Linked DNA regions of Homo sapiens. The protein of the gene in region 7 interacts with the protein of the main gene of each other region in a biochemical or structural test. Each region holds a gene or a part of one and is shown on either strand. Other genes may lie near its edges. The genes, in order: CUL4B, FBXO45, UBE2G2, UBE2F, UBE2D4, DDB2 and RBX1.

Evidence for each region.
Region 1: the proteins of RBX1 (region 7) and CUL4B form a complex in vitro, tested with the Homo sapiens proteins (4 studies listed by BioGRID, with this or other methods).
Region 2: the proteins of RBX1 (region 7) and FBXO45 form a complex in vitro, tested with the Homo sapiens proteins (one study listed by BioGRID).
Region 3: the proteins of RBX1 (region 7) and UBE2G2 form a complex in vitro, tested with the Homo sapiens proteins (3 studies listed by BioGRID).
Region 4: the proteins of RBX1 (region 7) and UBE2F form a complex in vitro, tested with the Homo sapiens proteins (2 studies listed by BioGRID).
Region 5: the proteins of RBX1 (region 7) and UBE2D4 form a complex in vitro, tested with the Homo sapiens proteins (2 studies listed by BioGRID).
Region 6: the proteins of RBX1 (region 7) and DDB2 form a complex in vitro, tested with the Homo sapiens proteins (2 studies listed by BioGRID, with this or other methods).

What each region holds. Positions count from the first base shown.
Region 1 is NC_000023.11:120,523,358-120,526,660, reverse strand, and holds the end of CUL4B (cullin-4B), read left to right. Parts: 3' UTR 1-2,803; downstream 2,804-3,303.
Region 2 is NC_000003.12:196,582,160-196,585,659, forward strand, and holds part of FBXO45 (F-box/SPRY domain-containing protein 1), read left to right. Parts: intron 1-1,973; coding exon 1,974-2,159; 3' UTR 2,160-3,500. UniProt on the Homo sapiens protein: Component of E3 ubiquitin ligase complex consisting of FBXO45, MYCBP2 and SKP1. Functions in substrate recognition but also plays an important role in assembly of the complex.
Region 3 is NC_000021.9:44,784,821-44,788,320, forward strand, and holds part of UBE2G2 (ubiquitin-conjugating enzyme E2 G2), read right to left. Parts: intron 3,276-3,500; coding exon 3,240-3,275; intron 3,146-3,239; coding exon 3,100-3,145; intron 1-3,099. UniProt on the Homo sapiens protein: Accepts ubiquitin from the E1 complex and catalyzes its covalent attachment to other proteins. In vitro catalyzes 'Lys-48'-linked polyubiquitination. Involved in endoplasmic reticulum-associated degradation (ERAD).
Region 4 is NC_000002.12:237,970,014-237,973,513, reverse strand, and holds part of UBE2F (NEDD8-conjugating enzyme UBE2F), read right to left. Parts: intron 423-3,500; 5' UTR 407-422; coding exon 289-406; intron 1-288. UniProt on the Homo sapiens protein: Accepts the ubiquitin-like protein NEDD8 from the UBA3-NAE1 E1 complex and catalyzes its covalent attachment to other proteins. Together with the E3 ubiquitin ligase RNF7/RBX2, specifically neddylates cullin-5 (CUL5).
Region 5 is NC_000007.14:43,936,436-43,939,935, reverse strand, and holds part of UBE2D4 (ubiquitin-conjugating enzyme E2 D4), read right to left. Parts: intron 1,506-3,500; coding exon 1,442-1,505; intron 1-1,441. UniProt on the Homo sapiens protein: Accepts ubiquitin from the E1 complex and catalyzes its covalent attachment to other proteins. In vitro able to promote polyubiquitination using all 7 ubiquitin Lys residues, but may prefer 'Lys-11' and 'Lys-48'-linked polyubiquitination.
Region 6 is NC_000011.10:47,235,474-47,238,973, reverse strand, and holds part of DDB2 (DNA damage-binding protein 2), read right to left. Parts: intron 1,138-3,500; coding exon 973-1,137; intron 837-972; coding exon 791-836; intron 175-790; coding exon 125-174; 3' UTR 1-124.
Region 7 is NC_000022.11:40,957,878-40,961,377, reverse strand, and holds part of RBX1 (E3 ubiquitin-protein ligase RBX1), read right to left. Parts: intron 1-3,500. UniProt on the Homo sapiens protein: E3 ubiquitin ligase component of multiple cullin-RING-based E3 ubiquitin-protein ligase (CRLs) complexes which mediate the ubiquitination and subsequent proteasomal degradation of target proteins, including proteins involved in cell cycle progression, signal transduction, transcription and transcription-coupled nucleotide excision repair.

The DNA.
Region 1 (3,303 bases), on a different chromosome or scaffold from region 7:
AAATGAAGCAGTGTAATTAATGGAAATAGTTGAGTGGACTTTTTCTCAGTGGTTAACATGCCCATTTTAAAGAGTAATACTTACCTTTAAGAAGAATGTTGTTGAACTCTTTGCATGTTATTTAGTATGATGTGCAGAAAACACTTAAGAACGTACCTGGTCTTCATGAATTCCTCTTTGGAACTGGGAAAGAGATCCCTGTGGCTATTAAAAAGGGGGGAGGGTTCTTACACACCATTAATTATGAAGCAAAAGGTTTATTTGCTTAAAATGTCATTTAAAGATACTTAAACTGCATGCAAACTTTATTTACTGTACAGAGTTCTGGATGTATTTATCAAATAGAAAAACCACCCTTGACTTGGTTGTTCACCCGTTTTGTGATTTCCCTTGAAAAGAGAAATGAATTGTCATAGCTATTGATATTTTACTAGGTGATGTTCTGTTACACTGAAAGGGATGTTTTTTAAAAAAAATTATTTGGAAACAAGTTTTCAAGTAGGGGGACAGTTGCTTACATAATATCTTGTATATTCACATCCTAAAAATTTTCATTTATGAGTATGGGATGTGTGTATATGGCTTAGCCCCAAGTTAACTGTGCTGATTAACAAGTACTTATAAAAATAGCTAAAGTAGAAAATTAATGATCAGTTGTACTAGAGGAACATCATAGAAGAGAAAAATCCAACTCTTTATATTAAAAATGAATACAATAAGAAAATTGCAAAAGAGACCAAAATGAACGTGTTTTGTAAATTGTTACAGGAGCAAAAACTTTGCAACTAGTTTTCAACATACTTTAGACTTTAAATGTTGTTTGGACAGTTTTGTCTTCAACTTGGACCAATTGTAGATTGTTACAGGCTTCCTAGGATTTAGCATTCCTATTTTCTCTACCAAAGTTTTTTTTAGAAGCATCCCAACTCTTCTCTTTGTTGATAAATAAGCCTTTCCTGTCATCTTCATTTTAACTTGCTAAAACCCTAGATACAAAGGTCCTCCCTCATTTTTCCCACAGAGCCCCTGTTTGGGAATTTGAGATTCTGTGTCATGCTGGTTTTCCTTTCAGAATTGCTTGAAATCGAGTTCTCTTAGCCACTGGACACCTAGTTTTCAGGAGAATGTCCCAAGATTGTTTATATATACAAAATGGCAAAAGTACTGTTTTTCGAATTGATAATTCAAGCAAAGGCTTCTCTTTACTGTCACTGATTTTTTTTTGTTTTTATTTTGTTTCCTTGTTTCTATTTCCTTGAAGCTTTGAAGGGAGGAGAAGCAGAAAATTTTGTTTATGTTTGTTAAAAATCAGAACTACTTAATGCTTTTTGCCACAGCATATTTCCTTGCCTGTTGGAGCCGTTAGGAAGATTACCTATGTCCTAATCTTCAACCTGAGAAGATTTTTGACTCTTGTGTCTACTGTTGATTGTTTGCTTGAGTTCTCAAAGACCTGTGGCCAGGTATTTTAAAAAGTCGTCTATTTCTTTCTAGTTGCATCAACTTGCACACTGGTGTCTAACTATATGTGGTATTCGGAACTTGTAATTCTTATTGAGCAGCCATTGCCTATATTTTCTCAGCTCCTCACTGATTTCTTTATATGAGCTCAGCTGACAAGCAAATGCAGCTATTTTGTTTACCCTCTCTTCATACCGGACCATCAACAACAGTGTTCTAACTCATCCCTGATGGTCTGTGAGATGTAGACTATTACACAAGATTCAAGTTACTCGTAAGCAACTTTTAGATAGAGTTGGTCCTGTTAGGAGGAGACTCTTGATGTCACCTTCAGTATCTTGAAAGCGGGTCCCCTCCCCGAGGCTCTTAATTCTTTGAAAACTTGATGCTGTTTCAGCTGAAAAATTAGCAAGACTGTTAAAAAAAAAAAGTTGAGGGGAGCTGTTTAAGAAACTGAAAAGTAATTGCAAACTACATTGGATAATTGTGACTTTCAGTTGTTGTTCTGTATCAGTTGAATTTTTGTGCTCTTTTCCCTGTGTACGTGGTGGTTCTATTTTTCTCCAATAAAACTTTTATTTAAAAAAAGTTTCTAGAGAAGATCTTTAAAATTCAAGTATTGTAAGAAAGTTATAAAATCACAGGACTTAAAATCTTCCTAACAACTTCTAATGAACTCACATTTGTTGATTTTGTTATTTTTAAACTTTTTAAAAATTTTGTAATGGTTTTGTGGTAATGCTATAAGAGTATGGGGGAGGGCATGGTTAACAGGGTGAGGAAAATTCCCAGGAATCCTCAAGGTGGATAATTATTCTTAAACATGCGGATACAAGTATAAACATTGCTTCATTCAAATCCTCAGTGTCAAATTGTTTCATAAAGTCAATATGAAATGAGTCTAGATTTGAGTTCAGGGGAGAAGAAAAGATTACTCTTAGTTATGGCATTTGCTCTGCCTTTTCTGTTAATAGTTTTTTGAGTTCTGGGCCAGATACTCTCAGAGTAAGATGTTCCTCAAAGTTTTTGAACCCAGTTCCTGAGTCTGCTTGAATGGTCTTAATATGATGTCTAGCCATACTCTTGAAATTTTTGCTGTGTATGTGAGTGTACAGTTCAGAAAACCAGTTTATCTGGGCATCTGGATCTAAAGATTTGAGAAGTTTGTTTTTTAATCTGGATATTCATAAATCTTTTAAAATGAGCTGGTCTTTGTTTTCATGACCACTCTGTTTAATGCTGTGAATGGCAGGAGTGTTGTGAGCGTGTTCTATTCTCTTATTTACATAAAATTGCCAAAACAAATTGTTCATTAAAAAGAAAAGAGCAGTACTGATGAAAATTTGCATAATTATGCTTTGTAAAATGATATCTTGCTAATGCTTCATTAATGAATATTTTTCAGTGTCCTACAAAAAAACACCTGCTTTACATTTGAATACTGAAGTTTGTTCACCTGCAAACACTTGGTTGAAATCAAACACTTTGCTCAATTATTTTCCTTTTTCCCCTTGCTATTATAAAAAAGGGTATTTCTTCTTTTGAATGGACACATAATGTACCTTTATGTTTAACAATCCTTAGAAGTCATCTCTAGCATAGTGAAAAAGACTCTGACCTTTCTTTTGTAAAACCGTTTCTATTGGATGTAAAATATAAGAATGTGCTGCACTGGCATGTTAGAACTTAATAGTTTTGCCAGCTATAACAACAACAGATCCTCTTCATTTGTTCTCTAATTTCAAAACTTTTCTTTAATTTTTAAATTTTTTATTGTGGTAAAGTACACACAAAATTTACCATTCTAACCATGATAAAGTATACAATTCTGACATTTAGTAC
Region 2 (3,500 bases), on a different chromosome or scaffold from region 7:
TGTGCGTGCTGTGTGCTCAAAGGTGAAGCAGATTTGCAGATTTCACCAGGAGTAATCGTTACTTAGTTTCAACTTCTGTAAAATAGGGATAGTTCCTAGGATTAGTGTGAGGATTAAATGGGATAATACAAATACGACACAACACAAATACCCAACAAAATTAGCTTTTCATTTCTACTTTGTTAATATTTTGTTGGTAGGAGTGGTGGTGATGATGATTTGGAGGTTCTTAGATCCATAAAATGAGGTGTGGGTTAATCTGTGAGGTGGGCAAAGGGAGGAAAAAAGCAGATGTTGGCAGTTACTGTTAACAGGAAATACAGTGAAGGAAAGTAAATGACAATAGTAGGGGTTATAATCAGGTAGAATTAAATTTTGATTGCAAACATTAGGACTTTCTGTTTCCAATTTTGTAGATGCAACATCTTTTTATAAAGGCAAACTAAAAAGATGAAACATCCTTTTTTTTTTTTTGCTTACTTTTCCAAATGGGAAAAAACTGGATATATTCTGCTTCCAGTTTCGTTTAATAATCAGTGCTGCTGTTTTTTATAACAAACAGGTGTTTCAGAGTTGTGAACCACAAATTGTTTAATAAGCCTATTCTATATTCTACATTAGAATTTGTAGCCAGATTGGATTATTCATGATTCCACATTACATGTGGAACTGCTTTGTAAACTTTAAAAGCTGTGTGTCTTACTAAGGTGATTTTTAAAATTGTGGTGAAACATACATATTTATTATTTTAACCATTTGTAAGTATACAATTCAGTGGCATTAAATACATTCACACACCTCTCTCTATACCCAAAACTTTTTCCTCACCCCAACATAATCTCTATTATGTTCATTCCCTATTTCCTTCACTCCCCACCCCTGGTAAACTCTGCTCTACAACTATATATATTTGAGTATTCTAGATACTTTATATAGGTGGAATCATACCATTTAGCCTTTTGTGTCTGGCTCATTTCACTTAGCATAATATTTTCAGGGTCTATCTATGTTGTAGCATATATCAAAATTTCATTTCTGTTTATGGCTGAATAATATTCCATTGTACGGCCGGGCGCGATGGCTCATGCCTGTAATCCCAGCACTTTGGGAGGCTGAGGCAGGTGGATCACGAGGTCAGGAGATGGAGACCATCCTGGCTAACACGGTGAAACCCGTCTCTACTAAAAATACAAAAAATTAGCCGGGCGTGGTGGCGGGCACCTGTAGTCCCAGCTACTGGGGAGGCTGAGGCAGGAGAATGGCATGAACCCGGGAGGCGGAGCTTGCAGTGAGCTGAGATTGCACCACTGCACTCCAGCCTGGGCGACAGAGCAAGACTCCGTCTCAAAAAAAAAAAAAAAAAAAGTTCCGTTGTATGTATAGTATAGTAATTTGAGAAGCTGATTTAGATTGCTCTTTTTGGTAAAATATGCCAAGTTATAGATTTTAGTGTTAACCTTAAGAAAAACCTTTAAACAAAGAGTAAATAAAATCAATCTAGGTAGTGTTCAGGTGGAACATTTAAATTGTAAGTAATTAAGTGTAGATTCCATGTGAGTCTTAAAAACAAAACTATCAAAGTAAGCATTTGTGATGTGTTACCTAGGCTGGAGTGCAGTGGGCAGTGGTGCGATACCAGCTTTGCGCCACCACACCCAGCTAATTTTTGTATTTTTAATAGAGATGGGTTTTCACCATGTTGCCCAGGCTGGTCTTGAACTCCTGGGCTCAAGCAATCCGCCCGCCTCAGCCTCCCAAAGTGCTGGGATTATAGGCATGAGCCACTATGCCCGGCCAGATGTATGTCCTTTTTTTATAGATGTTTCTTCCTGACTAGAAAGCTTCCCTTCTGATTTTTCTAGATAGCTTTCAGGATAATATTCTTAATATTTTCAACTTCTTGATTTGTGTCTTGTTTCTTCTAGCTACACCCTTGGCAGATTTTCTTCTAACCTTTTGATATCTGTTTGCAGATAGGAGAAAGAATTCGAGTCATCTTGGACATGGAAGATAAGACTTTAGCTTTTGAACGTGGATATGAGTTCCTGGGGGTTGCTTTTAGAGGACTTCCAAAGGTCTGCTTATACCCAGCAGTTTCTGCTGTATATGGCAACACAGAAGTGACTTTGGTTTACCTTGGAAAACCTTTGGACGGATGACAGTGGCTTTCTTGTGATGACAGACAGAATGGAGGAGAGATCTGCTTATGGGAAGTAGAACCATGAAGTGACTGTCACACATGCATGTCCAAGAAACATCCTGAAAACACATGAAGTCGTAAACTGGAGAAGCAGCTCTACAGCAGAGATTATCTTCGTGTTTCCTCTTTCTACTGGGCCAGAAAAATCCTCAGGGTTGCAGTTGGTTGAGTGGGCAGTTGACATATGCATGTTGCACCCGATGTTGTCTCTAAGTTAGCAATGTGTTATTTCCAGCTTTAAAGGTGAGATTGTAGAGATGCTGTCAAAGGGATAAGGAAATAGCAAGATTTTTAAGTAGTGTGTTTGTGAAGACTGATCCCATTTTACAACTGCCTGTTCTTTCTCCAGTCCTTTTTTTTCCAGCCAGCTTGACTATTAGAAAAGTATGAAACTGGTTGGGTTTTATTTAATATTTTTAATATATTGAGAAGCATGGTCTGCCTGGACTGCACTTCTCTAAAAGTGAGATATAAAATTGTGCAGCTATTTTAAAAGTTGTATATAATATGTGTGTAAAAAAAAAAAACTGTAAAAAAGAAAGGACAAACAGGTTGTTTTGTTCTAGTTCTAATTTCTTAAAAACCACTACATGGTTACAAAATTGGAATAACATTTGGGGACAACTGGGTTAACTACAAAGAAGAGGATTTTAAGAGGAGATGTGTTGTATTGACTCATTTTGTATTATTTTTGGCTTACAGTTCCCATAGCTGTTAGAGTCTGGTTTGTTTTTGTTTTTACTCTCAAAATCATAGTAAAGATCTCTCAGTCTCCTGGCTAAAGATTGAAGGAAGGCAAATCTATTTCTAATTATACATATATCAGTAAGGATGATCTCAACATAATAGTAATGTGTATCTTTTGGTATCCAGTTTTATTTTTGGCCTTCTAAGAAAGTGTCTCATAACACAGAACATTGCCATTTGCTCTTGTAGGCCTCAAATATGAAAGCTATTAGTCATAGAGCCTAGGAAAAAAAGAATTGATTAATGGTCCTTTTATTTTGTAACCTTATAAATGCTGTAGATATTATCAAAAAAATTTTAATTTCATATTGTTTACATCATGCAACTAATCTAAGCCTCAAACTCGTTATTGGGGCTATAAAGAAAACGTTTACTTACCCAGCTGAAACAGGTTAAGAATATTCTTAATCTCATTATAGATAATTGCCCCCATGGGACTTGAAATACAACACCTTGTGCTGAAAACTTCAGGTTGGCAATATTTGAAGGTTTCGTTGTAGAAGAGTTTAACATTAACTCCTATTTTGACTTACAAATCTTGTTTCTCATCACT
Region 3 (3,500 bases), on a different chromosome or scaffold from region 7:
GTCTGGGGAGGTGACAGCAGTCAGGCATGAACCAGACAAGAAGGTCACCAAGCCAGCTGATTTGGGAATGCTGGGGCAGGACACAGAGGACAGCAAGCGCCAAGGGACTCCACGCCTTGTCCGGCCACTGGGGATGAACAGCTGTCTAGGACTCCTTCTGTCCCACATAAGTGCATCAATGAAAGAGGGCACCCACCCTCTCTGCAGCTACACCCCCGTCACCGTGGCTTAGTGGCAATGGGGTCACGGGCCATGGACCCTAGAGCTGGGCAAGACCTGTAACCATCTGTCTAGAAGATGCTGATAAACCTCTCTGTTTTGATCCAAATAAGTCAAAGAGAGGCAAAGTGACTGGGCCAAGAGCAGCAGGCCATGCTAGCACCCACAGCCACGGTGGCCACATCCCCTGGTGTGCCGCCATCCCAGCCACGCTCGATTTGATTGCAGGCTCAGACTCCACCATGAGCGTGGCAGGGTCAGCAGAGTTATTCCCGGTGTTTAAAGACACAGCCTGCGGACTCTCATTATTTAGTCCTCTCATTCACTAATCTGTTCTATTCTCCATCCTAATCCCTCAACCCTGGTCTTCCAAGGTAAAGATTTCAGTGCATCTTTGACATGTCTGTATCTTCAGACAAGGGCCCTAACATATCAAAGGCACTTAGTGTTTGTTGCTTAGATATCTAAAATGACATTTTCTTCACTGGCCCTTAAGGCAAGCACAACAGCAAAAACCAACAGCCGTTCGACTTCTGTGAGGCAAGCACGGGTTTTAGAAATACTAGGGTAGAGAGGCGGCCCTGGAAGCCATCAAAGAATAAAGAGAAAAAGAAGAAACTTATCACCAAGGAGCAAAGACTTGGCCAGATGTCTGCCAAAATAGCAGGGTGAGACAAATCGATGGGAGGACAGTTAATTCCCTAATAGGCATTTTAAGTGCACTTGTAAACGGCCTCTTGTTTGTGAAGGGTCTGGAACAGGACCAAAACCCACAAACTCACTAGGATCTTCAAGCAGGGGAATTCCAAACTAATGCAAAAAGCCTTGTTCAAACACAGAAGTGCTCTACCTAAAAATAGTTCTAATTACTTTTTAAGACAGGTTTTCAAAATATTGGTTTAATTTTACACTGTTTATTTAAAATTGGTAATAGTTACCCTAATCGATTTTTAACAATGAACATTTTTTTAAAACCACACTGGACGGCTCAACTGTTCCTTTAATGAGCTTCCAAATAGGCCTACGGAGGAGCCAACACCCCACAAATAACTGCAGACACGACAGGCGCCTTCAACCTCTACACACAGACAGGCCTCCCGCCACTCTGGGCCCCTGCAGCAGGCGTGCTGCCCCGCTGGCATGAGTGCAGGTGCGCCTGCATTAACACATGAAACAAGCAGGTTACACATCAGTTCATGTATATGATCTCCTGCTTCTACAGAAATAAAAAGAGCTGCCCCGATACAAGTATACAGCCGCACAGTCCACTAATGAGGACAGCCCAGACTGTGGGACTCGCCATCCATCTCATAACTGCCTTGGGGGCCACATTACACACAAACACAGATTCCAGAAACCTTCAGACACCGAAAAAACATGTGCCATAGGCCCAAGCAATTAGGATATTACAAATGATCAGGAAATGGCAGGCGTGCTGTACCATCTGAATAGCGTTTGATGATTTTTTAAAAACATTTTGTTTATCCAAAATACTAATTTTCATATCAATTTAACCTCCACAGACAACACTTAGCTGCAATCTGTTTCTCAGACCAACCCATAGAGCATTAAGAATTAATGTGATCCAAGCAACTGGCGAATTCCAAAAGCATCATGAAGCTTAAGATCACTTCAAGCCAGAGCCCACACTTGTTTCACAGCCCTCACTTTTCCGGTCCTTGCCCTCTAGAGCACTTCTCAATGCAACAAAATCCAACCCAAGACCTTGCTGCAAATTAAAAGACCTCACTAATGAGATAACAAAGACTGGGCTTGGCGCGGTGGCTCACACCTGTTATCCCAGCACTCTGGGAGGCCAAGGCAGGCGGAACACCTGAGGTCAGAAGTTCGAGACCAGCCTGGCCAACATGGGGAAACCCTGTCTCTACTAAAAATACAAAAATTAGCCAGGCACGGTGGTGGGTACCTGTAATCCCAGCTACTAGGGAGGCTGAGGCAGGAGAATCGCTTGAACCCAAGGGGCAGGAGTTGCAGTGAGCCAAGGTTGTGCCACCGCACTCCAGCCTGGGCAACAAGGGCGAAACTCCATCTCAAAAAAAAAAAAGAAAGAAAGAAAAAGAAAAGAAAGAAAACAGAGACTGATTACAAATTTCAACTTCCTAAATTTTATTTAACCTCACTTTGCTGAAAATACACTAAGAATGGCCAAAAATTGCACATCTAAGGTAGAAAGAAGAAAAAGCAAAGTGAGTCAAGGCCATAGAACACTCTAAAATCAGGGGTCCATGTGTTTCTCTTTCCAAGCAACGTCACCCTAAGTTAAATGCCACGAATCCCAGAACCACACTGCTCACTTACTAAGCCATGTCTTGGGTCGGAAAGAACACAAGGCCAACAAGTCCAGACAAGGCAACAGAAAAAGGAGATGCAGCACACGAAGATACGAACTGGGAGGAAAGGAGAAGAAAAAGAAGTCCTGGCCCAAAGGCAGGGCAGGCAAGGCTGCGCTAACATGCCTGGTGTGGTCAGACACATCTTTGAGGACCCTTTTCTCGTCAAAATTTCACACCTGAAGGGGCTACTTCTGGAAGCCAAAGCCACCTACGCCATTTGAGGTTATTTTAACCACGATCATACAACATTCCAAAATTACCACCTTAAAACTCTCAAATATATAATACATATATTACATAATTATAACTAAACCTTTGACTGGCTCTAAGGAAACACTCATTTCTTTTGGATCAATGCTCAGGTTCTCTGCTTTCAGACCAGCAGCCTAGACGAGAGCTGGGCATTACTGGAGAACTCAGTCTTTTTTCCAGCTGATGCTTTTGGACACAGTCACACTGCTGATGTGATTCTTACATCTGACTTCCAGCAAAGCCCTAAAAACTAGTACACCTAAAATTAACTTACATGATCAATGCCTCCCATTCAAAAAAGTTCTCTTCATTCATGGGGCCTGTAGGGTGAGAAAAAATTTCACAACATTTTAACTTTGAAGGAACTTTGGCAATTAAAAGTAAATTATAAGGAAGTTAACTTTGGTACCTTACCTGCTACAATTCCTTCCGGAGGATTCAGTGTTAATTCTATAAAATTAATAAGTAAAACCATTACCAAACAGAATAAATGTTACATTGTCATTTTAACAAAACACCTTTACAAAATATATAAGCCTATAAACCATAGAATATGCATATTAACAAGTGAAAATTCTGTTTGCCCAAAGTGAATACCTAGTACAATAACGGTTCTGATAACAACTACACAAAGTTTTTTTGTTTTTTTTTTGTTTTTTTTTGAGACGGAGTCTC
Region 4 (3,500 bases), on a different chromosome or scaffold from region 7:
GACTCTCAGCACCTTATTCTTTCTGCTAGCATTTTGGCAGACGTGACAAAGAACATCCCAAGTGTATAAGACACACTGCAGTTTCTAATACCATCTCCTTGCAACAGTGTGCTCATATCACCTGCGTGGTACAATGTCCTTCACTATAAGAGATAAGCAATTATATTTTAAAATCTTTTAAACAGGTATTTCTATTCAGCAGTAGGTTGCTTTATATCCCCAAAGACTCTCCAGTCAAACTTCCTTTTGTTATAGGATATAAAAACAGTTCACACGAATGATCATTACCTTTAACAAGCAATTTGTCTCTCACAGAAACCCTCCGAGTCGAGTCGGACGCTGTGGCTGCCGTCCGGGACCCTTTGAGACCATCGTCACGCTTCAGTTTACTTGCTAGCGTTAGCATTACTGCTGCCTTTACCCTGAAAGACAGCAATGAAAGCAGGGTTAAGGACCAGGTCTCCAGAGACTAATTAGACACTGAGAAAAATGTATAAGTGCTTTTGTATTTTGATTTTTTCCCACAATTTAGTTATGGAAAAAATTTGTACACATTAATAAGATTGGATTCCTTCATAATACATTTGAGAAGCTCTATGCCATCCTCTATAAGCCTAACTTTTAAAATTATGAATTAACATTTTTTAAAAAAGAGAGTCATGGCTGGGCACGGTGGCTCACAACTATAATCCCAGCACTTTGGGAGGCCAAGGTAGGAGGATTGCTTGAGCCTAAGAGCTCAAGACCAGCCTGGGCAACATGGCAAAACCCTGTCTCTACAAAAAATATAAAAAAATTAGCCAGGAGTGGTGGTGTGTGCCTGTAGTCTCAGCTACTCGGGAAGCTGAGGTAGGAGGATCCCTTGAGCCTGGGAGATTGGGGATACCGTGAGCCGTGATTGTGCCACTGCACTCCAGCCTGTGTGACACGGCAAGACCCTGTCTCAAAAAAAAAAAAAAAAAAAAAAAAAAATTTAAAATTAAAAAGAGTCATGCATTTCACACTCACTGGGTGCCAGGTCCTGGGATGTGGTTGTGACAAAGCTCCCGTGGAACACAAGGTCTAGGGTGGCCTCCACAGTTTCTCAACCAGCATGCCCTCACCAATGGGTTCCACATGAGTCCATTACTGCCCACTGGTAAGTTGGCCCTTCCCTGCTGCAGGGGATCATGCACACACATGGTACGGTCCCAGGTTCTGGCCCATCACCAACTGAAGCAGCACAGCCTCTGGTGGAAGAGGAGCACCACTCTTTGCTCTCCTTCCTCTTTTAATAAAGGTGTGGATAGAGCCTTAATAAGCATCTTCTCATTTATTCATGCTGTGTTGCATTTACTTACATTTGTGTTTTATTTATATTTTTTGGCAATTTCAACATCAAGACTAAATTAAAATTAATGTCCCAAAGTAGATTATGTTCATTGGTGGCTTCCACCCCATCTGTGTTGCAGGTTCCCCTGCTGCAAGCTCACTAGTAGGGACAACAAAGACCAAACACAGGTGATGCCCCTTGCTATCTGGGAGACGGTTGAAGAAATGCCACAATTTGTTTAAGATTTTATTTTTTAATGGCAGTTTTAAGTATACAGTAAAATTAACAGGAAGGTACAGAGATTTCCCATACGCCCCCTGCCCCAACACATGCACATCCTTCCCCTATTACCAACATCTCCCACCAGAGGGTACATTTGTTACAATTAATGAACCCACATTAACACATTATAACTCAAAGTCCACAGCTTACATTATGATCCCACTAATTGTAACAAAGTAACTATCCGCTAGACTCTGCCTTCTGTTTCTAACATAAACTGACATTAATCGTCCTCCTTGCCATGGTCAGAGAGGGTCACTGGAACTTCTTTTGACTGAGGACAAATATTTGTCACCAGGGCCAGGTGCCGTGGCTCATGCCTGTAATCCCAACACTTTAGGGGAACGAGACAGGTGGATTATGAGGCCAGGAGACCGAGACCACCCTGGCCAACATGGTGAAACCCCGTCTCTACTAAAATACAAAAAAATTAGCCGGGCGTGGTGGCCCACACCTGTAGTCCCAGCTACTTGGGAGGCTGAGGCAGGAGAATCACTTGAAGCCGGGAGGCAGAGGTTGCAGTGAGCTAAGATTGCACCACTGCACTCCAGCCTGGCAACAGAGTGAGACTCAAAAAAATAAAATAAAATAAAACAAAATAAATTGTCACCAGTTCAATATTTCCATAATTTCCTTTGTTGCTTTCGTATCATTTTATTTCAATACCACTCTGATCGTTTCAACAGAAAATGATCTAAAAATTCCATGTGAAAAGCTTGACCTAAGCACAGAAATTTTAGGTTGAGGCTAAGATCCTGAAAGTCAAATAAGAATACTCCGTTCCTCATTGGCATTTGAAACCATTTTTCACCCAGGTCTCTTACACAGTTTCTCACACCATCTTCTGCATATCCCCTAAATGCTGTCAGATTTTATTTTCTATTGTTTGTACCATGAAAACAGTACAGGCCAGGCATGGTGGCTCATGCCTATAATCCCAGCACTTCGGTAGGCCGAGGCAGGTGGGTCACCTGAGGTCAGGAGTTCTAGACCAGCCTGCCCAACATGGCAAAACCCCATCTCCACTAAAAATACCAAAAAAAATTAGCTCGGCATGGTGGCGGGTGCCTGTAAATCCCAGCTACTCAGGAGGCTGAGGCAGAAGAATAGGTTGAACCCGGGAGGTGGAGGTTGCAGTGATTGTGCCATTGCACTCCAGCCTGGGCAACAAGAGTGAAACCGCATCTCAAAAGATAAAAAAATTTAAAGAATTTTTTCAAAACGAAAACAATACATAGAATACGATCTTCTGAACTGCACAGTCTTTTCCACTAGAGGACACGGACATACACATACCCTAAACCCCTTAAGAAGCACTGGTCTAAAGGTTTCAAAGACAGCTCTGCACTTTCACGGTCATAAGCTCTCAGAATTGCAAAGTTGGAATGGACTTCTCTCACTCCCATTCCATTTTAACATGTGGACCCCAGGACAACAGAGGCCCAGAAGGTAGGCTGCCCAAAGCCACTCAGCTGCTAGAAGCTGTCACCACAGACACACTAGTTTCCCTCTTGTGGATGACAAAAATGTTTTTTGTTTGTTTTTTGAGACAGGTCTTGCTCTGTAGCCCAGGCTGGAGTGCAGTGGCGTGACTTGAGCTCAGTGCAGGCTCAAACTCCCAGGTTCAAGAGATCCTCCCACCTCAGCACCCTCCACCTCCTAAAGCAGCTAGGACTACAGGCAGGCACCATCATGTCCAGCTAATTTTAATTTTTTTTGTAGAGACAGGGTTTCACCATGTTACCCGGGCTGGTCTTGAATTCCTGAGCGGAAGCAATCCACCTGCCTCAGCCTCCCAAAGTGCTGGGACTACAGACGTGAGCCACCATGCCGGGCAGGAAATGTTTTTATCTCGAGTGTGGTCATGGTTTCAGACTGATCAATTACACAATTTAAATATGGGCAA
Region 5 (3,500 bases), on a different chromosome or scaffold from region 7:
CCATCCATTTCTAAAGCTTTCCATCACCCCCAACAAATTCTGTATCCATGAAACAATATTTCTCCTATTTCCACCCCCCATCAGCCTCAGGTAATCTCTCATCTACCGTCTGTCTCTATGAATTTGCCTAGTCTAGATATTTCATGTAAGTGGAATCATATATTCATTCTTTTCTTTCCGGCTTATTTCACTTGGGATGTTTTCATGTTGTAATGTGTATCAGAACCATATTTTGTTTATCTGTCATCCACTGATGGGCACTTGGGTTGTTACCAGCTTCTGAAAATCATGAGTAATGGTGCCGTGAACATTGGCATACACATTCTGTCTCACTCTGTTTTTGATTCTTTGGTATATGTACCTCTGACACCACTCTCCTTGAACACATAGTATCTCCCCTCCCCACCTATTTTCCTATGGCTGCAGTTACTGAAGCCTCACAGGGAAGGATTGGTGTCCCAGAGCCCAAGAAGCCCACAAAGTGGAGGCAAGGTGAGTGGGCAGAGGACAGACCTGGAAACCCTAGTGCTGGGCAGCTCAGCCTCGGCCAGCACCTGTGAGGGACAGCAGAGGCCTGGAACAGGCAGTGCTGCTTCTCCCTCTCTCTCCCAAGAAGCTGCCCAGAGCTGCTGCTTCAGTCTCCGCCAGGGAAGAGTGGAAGTGGGAGAAAATAATAGGGACTGCCCTTCCCCTTGGCAGAGGCAAGTGGCCACTGCCCTACCCTGCCCTGCCCCTCCTCCACTGTCCTGCTCTGCTCCCAGGAGCTGCAGCAGCACCAGGTCCTCTAGACCAACTCCAACAATATTTACACCAGCACCCAAGTTTGACTTGGCCAAGGGCACTTTCCAGCAGCTGATGTGACTCCTCAGGCCAAGCTGGCTTTCTCATGCGCCAGAAGAGGGAAGCGGTGACTATGGGACATGAGAGGCAGTGCAGGTTCTACTTTGAGTATAAGCTGACCAGCCAAGCTGCTGTGAACTCATGGCCTAGACCTCAAATGAAAAGCCATTCAAGAGAAAATGAAGGGAAAAGCATTGATTGGTTTTCTTAAATACTGCTTGGCTGATAATTTGGTTGTTTGGTTTTGTTTGTGTTTGTTTGTTTTTCAGACAGAGTCTGTTGCCCAGGCTGGAGTGCAGTGGCACGATCTTGGCTCACTGCAACCTCTGCCTCCTGGGTTCAAGCGATTCTCCTGCCTCAGCCTCCCAAGTAGCTGGGATTACAGGCATGTGCCAGCATGCCCGGCTAATTTTTGTACTTTTAGTAGAGACGGGGTTTCGCCATGTTAGCCAGGCTAGTTTCAAACTCCTGACCTCAGGTGATCCACCCACCTTGGCTTCCCAAAGTGTTGGGATTACAGGCGTGAGCCACCGCACCTGGCCTAAGTTGGGGGGTCTTAATTAAAATGCTCCTACAACTTGAAGCCCCCCAAAATACTTACAGTCATCACCGACAGGTCCTGCAGAACACTGGGCAGGAGGATCCCTCTGCAAGTCGGTTAATTCCTAGAACATGAGAGAGTGGGTCAGAGCTGCTGTATGCTGGGGATGCTGCCTCTACATACCAATCTTGGTAGCTGGAAGGAATTCTCCTGGTGGGAGGAGGCTCCTAGGCCTCAGGAGGGGGTTAGAGACATGGTGGGTCATAGGACTCTACTCCCTGCTACAAAGATACCAGAGAAGTAGGTATGATCATTTCCATTTTATACATTAGGAAATTGAATTGTAAAGTGATGAAGTTACCTACTCAAGGTACAGAGCTGGAAGAGGGCAGGGCAAGAAGTCAGTCACATGTAGCTCTGCCTTACCCCCAAGCCTAGCCTCCTACCTCCTCAGGTAGAGGACATCCCCAGGCCCCCAGGTGCTGAAGATATGGAAGAAAAGCAGCCCAGGAGAGAGTTCTGGGAGAAGGATAGGTGCCAGGTTTTACTGCTAGGCTAATGAATTAATGCATGGAAGCAGCACCAAGGAAGTGCTAATCTCTCTACTTTACCTCCCCAACCACCATCCCAATCACCCTAGTCACCACTGGTTATGTGGCAAGTCCTAGGGCTCTGAATGTGGAGACTGGCACGTGAGCCAAAGTTTAACACTGCACCAGTGGGGATCAGGGATTATACCACGACTAGATTCCCTTTATGGGACACCAACCCTGAACTAAGCCAAACACTGTCCTATCTACACAAACTCTCCTGATTTCACCATATGTCTCTGGACATGCTGATCATTTCAGTAACCACATCTCTGGCCATCCTGCATTTATCCCCTTCACTTCAAATTTAATCAGCCAAGATGGAAGTATTAACATCACAGAAGCCAGCAAATGCTACAAATCAGGGCCATGTTTTCTCCCCGAGGGTTGATCTTTAAACATCTACCAGTATACCACTGGCCAATTCTCGATTAGTATCTAATATATCTGAACCCATTTCCTCATAAGTAAAATGAATTATACTTGGCAAGCACTCAGGAAGCAGCATTAGGAGTGGCCAAAAGAGAATTTAACTTGGGGAACAAGTGAGGTCATACAAGGGGACCAAGGACAGGCTCAGAAATGCAAGAGCTACAGAAATCTCTGTGGAACAGTTCCTTTTAGCTTACCTCTCTGCTATGTGCCCCTCAGCACCTCCACTATCACTGTGCAGGAGAATTGTTTATATTCATTGCTACACTGCATGGATAAATTAGCCCTATGACAGAACTGCTAAGGCAAATCCTGAAGAGGTTATATGAACAGCCAGGGGCAGGAAAAGCCAGCAGTACAGACCAATTCCCCTCCACCTCACAAGGTTTTCCCACACCTCTATGCTTTTGCACTGCCTATATGCAGAATCCATGTTCCCCCTTTAGAGGTGTGATGAACAGTTACACCAGCACTTAATGATCCCTGAAAGGCCACGTGTGGATCCCTATTGTTAGACTCCAACCAGCACCCAGGAGTTTCGAATACTAACTGGCATTTCAAGGAAGAATGGTGTGACTTGAAAGAAACTAGTCCACTCACACATCGAATTCCTGTGCTCACCTCAGGGTTAGAAGACTCAGGTCTGAATCCAAGCTCCGTCACTGAGGAAATCACTTTCACCTCTTTGGGCCTCAGTGTAATTACCTGTTAAGTTGTAATCATACTTGCCTGCCAACTTGCCGGTACTATTGTGTGGCTACAAATTTTGCATGTAAGTTTTTAATGTATATAATGTAAGCAAGAGCACCCAGTAAATATCAAGATAATAGTGGTATAGAGAATGCTACAATTAGTATTATAAAAAGGGAGAGGAATAAGTAGAATATATATATTTCTAGAAGAATACTTCGACACTGGTTGCCCACCCAGGAGGGGAACTGGATGGCTAGGGACAGTCTTGGGTGGGAGACTTTTCCCTGTATATCCTGTGCACATTTTGAACCATGGGAATTTATTACCAAATCATTAAATATATAAATATTTTATTAATTGTAAAGGATTAAGTAGATTAAGTTTATATAGTAATTACTATTACA
Region 6 (3,500 bases), on a different chromosome or scaffold from region 7:
CCCTGCTCCAACCCTAACCTTGGATACTTTTGGCCCTTTAACAAATCGCCACCTCTGCTTGCAGGACTTGATCCCATGTGTGGGCTCCAAGGCCTTGTCTGGCCCACACCTTCTTTAGTGTCTCTCACTTCCGTGTCCTGGCTTCCTCCTGGCTCCAGATGAGAATGTGGTAACCTAGGAAGAGTGAGACCAGTCTGACTTACACTTTCTGTTACCAATCTCTCAGAGCCTGGGGCTGGCCCGCAAACCTACAATTTGGTAAAGAAATACTAGGAAGGCCGGGCGCGGTGGCTCAAGTCTGTAATCCCAGCACTTTGGGAGGCTGAGGTGGGCGGATCACGAGGTCAGGAGACCGAGACCATCCTGGCTAACACGGTGAAACCCTGTCTCTACTAAAAATACAAAAAATTAGCTGGGCGTGGTAGCGGGCACCTGTAGTCCTAGCTACTCGAGAGGTTGAGGCAGGAGAATGGCGTGAACCCAGGAGGCGGAGCTTGCATTGAGCCAAGATCACGCCACTGCACTCCAGCCCGGGGGGACAGAGCGAGACTCCGTCTCAAAAAAAAAAAAGAAATACTAGGAAACTGGACAGTAGCCAGGCATTGCATGACCAAGACAAAGCCAGAGGAATGGAGGGCCTTGGCTATAGAGACCACTGTCTCCCAGCCATCTTCTTCGTGGGCCACTGCCCTGGGGTGAATGTGGCAGGGCGGGGCTGAGGCTGGCCCGCACTGAACCTTGGGAAGTAGGATCGGACTTGGCAAGTCAGAGACATTCTCCTCCTACTCACCCATTGCAGAGGCCAGCGTGTCCCCCATGGGATTGAATTCATTAAGCTGCAGAGACAAGAGTGTCAACATGAGGAGAGGGTGAAGGTATTAGCAGAGACACCTGATTTCTGGTCACTTTTGGTCAATAAGGTAGGTTGAATCCCTGCTTCCTCCCATCATTATTTGAGGACCCAAGCCTCACCGAACTGATGCCAGAAGATTCTGGGTCATAGAGCTGACACATCATCTTCCCTGAGTTTCCATCGAACACGTCGATCGTCCTCAATTCATAAGGGGTACAACTTTTGAAATTAGGATCTGGGTATCGGCCCACAACAATGAGGTTGTAGCGAGGATGCCAGGCTGCCTAGGAGATGGAGAGGCCGGCCATGAGGGTAAACACAGAACATGATCAAGGGGGACATCAAAAACAAATATGAACAAAGAGGAACATCAAAAGTATTCTTTGGGCTGAGTGCAGTGGCTCACACCTGTAATCTCAACACTTTGGGAGGCTGAGGCAGGCGGATCACGAGGTCAGGAGATCGAGACCATCCTGGCTAACATGGTGAAACCCCGTCCCTACTAAAAATACCAAAAAAAAAATTAGCTGGGCGTGGTGGTACATGCCTGTAGTCCCAGCTACTTGGGAGGCTGAGGCAGGGGAATCACTTGAACCCGGGAGGCGGAGGTTGCAGTGAGTGAAGATCATGTCACTGCACTCCAGCCTAGGTGACAGAGCAAGACTCTCAAAAAAAAAAAAAAAAAAGTAGTATTTGCCAGTAACAAGCCAACCTAATAATGGAGATAAGTCTTACAGAAAACTACAAGAATGGTTTTAGGTTGTGTGTGCCTCTGCCATTGCACATTTTTAATCCCTAGCTGGCCTCCCTGGCCCTTAGGGCACCTTCAGGCCTTCTCCCTCATTTGCATTTCCTAAGATCATACCAACTGGTAAACGTTTTAACATCAGCCTGACCCAGATACTGACCTAAGAGGCCTACAACAAAGCAGAAAAAGCCTCTGGTGACCAAACCCTAACAGGACTTGAGTTCTGGAGGAGCCCCACTGTCATCCTGTCTCCATCAACACGAATAACTAAGAGCTGAGTGTAAAATTGCTAATGGCTAAAAAAGAGAAGGAAACCCACATTCCCCAGATCACCCCACTAAAAACAAATCTGGCAGTTATTAAAATGGCAGAATTGGATGGGATTTTCCTAAACTTCTCAAGGAAGTTTTGAAGGAAGAAAGACATGGTTAGCAGGAAGGAAGAAATAGTACATGCGAAGGCTTAGAAATAAGTCACAAATCACACACAGGAAGCTGTAATGACTTACGACACCTGGCTAGATACAAACTGGGACATGCAGACAGATGGATTATCGGGAACACTGATGGATTAACAGGAACACCAACTGGGGAAGGATTCTTGACATTATTTATTAAGAGCTTGGATGTGATTGAGGTACGTGGGGGCCACTCAATATTCAATCATCATTTATTGAATACTTACCAGTACTTACCAGGTGCTGGGCATGGGGCCAAGTGCTTTAAGTATACTGACTCATCTTCACAACAACCCTATCAGTTAGAGACTAGTATTCCCTTTTTGCAGATGAGGAAACAGATCCAAAATATAAGTAATTTGCCCAAGGATTCTAACCCGGGGGGTCTGGCTGCTGGAAACTGGCGCTCCCCACCACTATTCTGAACTGACCAGAGAAGTATAGGCATAAAACCTGAAGATCTGAAGAGGATCTGTAGTTTTGGAAAAGAATGCAGAACTAGCAGAGCTCAGTCTGCATGGGGGCTTAGGCAAAAAGGCATCAAAGGACTTGAAAGCTATTAGTGTTGGGGACTAATGATAGAGAAGCTATTAACAAGAGCCTGAGAAAAGGTGGGAAAATAAAAGACTTATTTTTATTATTAGAAGCACTGAAACCTGCAAGACAAACTAAGAAGGCAAAGTTGCCAGGCGCAGTGGCTCATGCCTGTAATCCTAGCACTTTGGGAGGCCAAGGTTGGGGGATGGCTTCAACCTAGGAGTTCAAGACCAGCTTGGGCAACATGGCAAAACCCCATCTCTATAAAAAATAAAAAAATTAGCTGGGTATGGTGGCGCATACCTGTAGTCCAATCTACTTCCGAGGCTAAGGCGGAAGGATTGCTTGAACCCAGGAGGTTGAGGCTGCAGTGAGCTATGTTTGTGCCACTGCACTCCAGCCTGGGTGACAGAGCAAGACCGTTTCAAGAAAAAAAAAAAAAAAAAAAAAAAGGATCAGCCTGGGTAACACAAGAATACCCTGTCTCTACAAAAAAAAAAAAAGTGAGGCAGGAGGATCGCTTGAGCCTGGGAGATCAAGGCTGTAATGAACCATGCTTGCCCCACTGTACTCCCACCTGGGTGACAGAGCGAGACCCTGCCTTAAAAAAAATAATAAAAAAATAAAAAATGAAGGTTTGTGGGTCAACTGTACACAGGTAACTGAAGCTGAGAAGACAGAACAGAGGGTCAGGATCTTAGAAAATTCTCACAGTGAGATCAGAGCTGGGCTGAAAAAACTCAGAAAAATATCTTATCAGCGAGACAGAAAACTCAACCATATGGGATGGCAGAAGTGGGATAAAAGGAAGAGAGAGAGCCAATGGGTAAGAGATGCTCTGTGCTCGGGCCAGGAGCGATCTGGGGTGGCAGGCTTACCACATCAGCCCTTCCCCACTGTGGGCA
Region 7 (3,500 bases):
CACAGTCGCTCACACCTGTAATCCCAGCACTTTGGGAGGCCAAGGCAGCAGGATCACTTTAGCCCACGAATTCAAGACCAGGCTGGGCAACACAGCAACATCTCATCTCTAGAAATAAAAAAATTAGCCAGTTGTGGTAGCACATGCCTGTGGTCCCAGCTACTAAGGAGGCTGAGGCAGGAGAATGGCTTGAGCACAGGCGGTTGAGGCTGCAGTGCACCATGATCGTACCACTGCACTCCAGCCTAGGTGACAGAGCAAAACCTTGTTATCAAAAAAAAAAAAAAAAAAAAAAAGGCCAGGCACGGTGGCTCGGCCGGGCGTGGTGGCTCATGTCTGTAATCCCAGCACTTTGGGAAGTCGAGGCAGGCAGATCATCTGAGGTCAGGAGTTCGAGACCAGCCTGGCCAACATGGCGAAACTCTGTCTCTTCTAAAAATACAAACAATTAACCGGGTGTGGTGGGTGGCGCATGCCTATAATCCCAGCTACTAGAGAGGCTGAGGCAGGAGAATCGCTGGAACCTGGCAGGCAGAGGTTGCAGTGAGCTGGGATCGCGCCACTGCACTCTACCCTGGGTGAAAGAGCGAGACTCCATCTTAAAAACAAACAAAAAAGGGATCTAGGGTCTATGCAGTGTATTTAAGAACTTATTGAAACTGGAATACACTACTATAATTAAAAGAATGGCAGAGAAAAGTAAATATGATGTCCTTTAAGCTGGATCCTCTAACTTAGAGGAAGACTATGTATTATAAAATTAGCTAAATAAGAGCCACAATTATTAAAGTGAAAATCAAAACTGTTTCAAGGTACATTATCGTGTTTAAATTTGATCTGGGTCTTTCTTTTGACTGTGGCCATGGCACTACTAACCTAAAGAACCCTTCAGGCTCCCTTCACGGTAGAGTCCTTTCCTTCGTCCCTGCCATACCTGGAACATGCTCCTCCTCCTATCACTCTCAAGTCCTCCCCACCCTTCAAGACCCAGCTTAAATCCCTACTTCTTGACTGAAGCTTTTCCTGACTCTTCCACCCTGAGTCATTTTCCTCTCCTTCAGGCACTCTTAACACATCAATTATGAGTATCTCTTTACATACCTGACCTCCCTCCTTCCCCCTCAACTCAAAGCTCCCACAGAGCAGGGACCTGGTCTTTCTATGCCAAGTGCAAATTAGGCTCTTGGTACTTGAACAAGCAAACAAAAACTATTTCTATAAATAGAAGAAATACGGGACAAATACAGATTCATTCTTTTTTTTTTAGACAGTCTCGCTCTGTTGCCCAGGCTGAAGGGCAGTGGCACAATCTCCACACTGCAACCTCCACCTCCCGGGTTCCAGCTATTCTCTCACCTCAGCCTCCCAAGTAGCAGGGATTACAGGTGTGCACTACCATACCAAGCTAATTTTTTGTATTTTTAGTAGAGACGGGGTTTCACCATGTTGGCCAGGCTGGTCTTTAACTCCTGACCTCAAGTGATCTGCCTGCCTCGGCCTCCCATGGTGCTGAGATTACAGGCGTGAGCCACTGCATCCGACCAAGATTCATTCCTTTTTTTCTTTTAGACAGAGTCTAGCTTTGTCCCCCCAGGCCGGAGGGCACTGGTGCAATCTTGGCTCACTGCAACCTCTGTCTCCCAGGTTCAAGTGATTCTCCCGCCTCAGCCTCCCAAGTAGCTGGGACTACAGGCATGCGCCACCATGCCTGGCTATTTTTTGTATTTTTAGTAGAGATGGGGTTTCCCCACGTTGCCCAGGCTGGTCTTGCACTTCTGGCCTCACACGATCCACGCGTCCTGGCCTCCCAAAGTACTGGGATTATAGGCGTGAGCCACCGAGCCCGGCCAGATTCATTCTTTACTACAAAATTCCTAACAAAGAACAAAAATGTATAGGAGGGATATTACTGCAATCTAGAGTACCAAATAAGAAGGGATATAGCAGGGAAAATGATTAAATATTAGTGTAAAATGTGCTCAATACAAAAGTTTTCCAGCTTTTGTTGCAGAGAGTAAGTACAGGGGTTGAGTCCAGTTAGTTTAAACGGGCAGGAACTGTTCACTGTCAACCCAGAACAGGTTGACAGTGGCACATAACGGGTTCATGTCACACCCCTGCCAAGGCAGAAGCCTATCATGTGATTTATAAAGCTTGGGGACCTTTAAGCTTTGATAAAAACGCTGTACCACCAAAGAACTGTTAAGGAAGCAATGGCTTCATCTCAAGAGTAGACAGATTACACTTTCAAAACACTGACGGGGCCGGGCGTGGTGGCTCACGCCTGTAATCCCAGCACTTTGGGAGGCCGAGCCGGGTGGATCACTCGAGGTCAGGAGTTAAAGAGACCAGACTGGCCAACATGGTGAAACCCTGTTTCTACTAAAAATACAAAAATTAGCTGGGCATGCTGGTGCATACCTGCAGTCTCAGCTGCTCAGGAGGCTGAGGCAGGAGAATAGCTTGAACCTGGGAGGCAGAGGTTGCAGTGCACCGAGATCATGCCACTGCACTCCAGCCGAGGCAACAGAGCAAGACTCTGTCTCAAACAAACCAAACCAAACCAAACCAAACCAAACCAAACCAAACCAAACCAAACCAAAATACTGATGGATCTGTAGTTTTAGGTAGATGCTAACATCTTCTGGGCCAAGGCTGGGTCTAAGATGATGAAGATTCCCCATCATCAGGAATAAGATTACCAGAGGTAATAGAGAAAATAAAACCTCACATATTTGATTTTTCAGCAACTCCTTAATACAACCAAGGAAGGAGACAGTGTAAAATAAAATAAATACAAAGGTACAGGAGGGCATGCAGAATCAATATGGACTTAAAAGAGGAAGTCTTCAGAATCCGACTAGGGCACAGCCATAATCATTCTTATTTACTTAGAGCTATGTATATAATTACTCATTTAAGGTCAGACAAGATTTATTAAAATACAACCGTTGCTAAATCTAGATTCTTACTTTCATCTTTAACAAAAATTGTCTTTATAAAAATGATAAATCCATTTTTTTCTTTACTTGCTAAGTTCTTTTCCCATATAAATCCTTTTTTTTTTTTTAAGTTATGGCACTCAGACTTCTCCTCAGTGTCTATAATAAAAGTGTGTGGCCAGGGGCAGTGGCTCACACCTGTAAGCTCAGTGTTTTGGAAGGGCAAGGCAGGAGGATTGCTTGAGTCCAGGAGTTCAAGACAAGCCTGGACAACACAGCAAGACCCAATCTCTACAAAAAATTAAAAAATTAGCAGCTAGATGCGGTGGCTCACACCTGTAATCCCAGCACTTTGGGGGCCGAGATGGGTGATCATGAGGTCAGGAGCTCGAGACCAGCCTGGCCAACATAGTGAAACCCCATTTCTACTAAAAATACAAAAAATTAGCCAGGTGTGGTGGCGGGTACCTGTAATCCCAGCTACTCGGGAAGCTGAGGCAGGAGAATTGTTTGAACCCAGAAGGTGGAGACTGCAGTAAGCCGAGATCGTGCCACTGC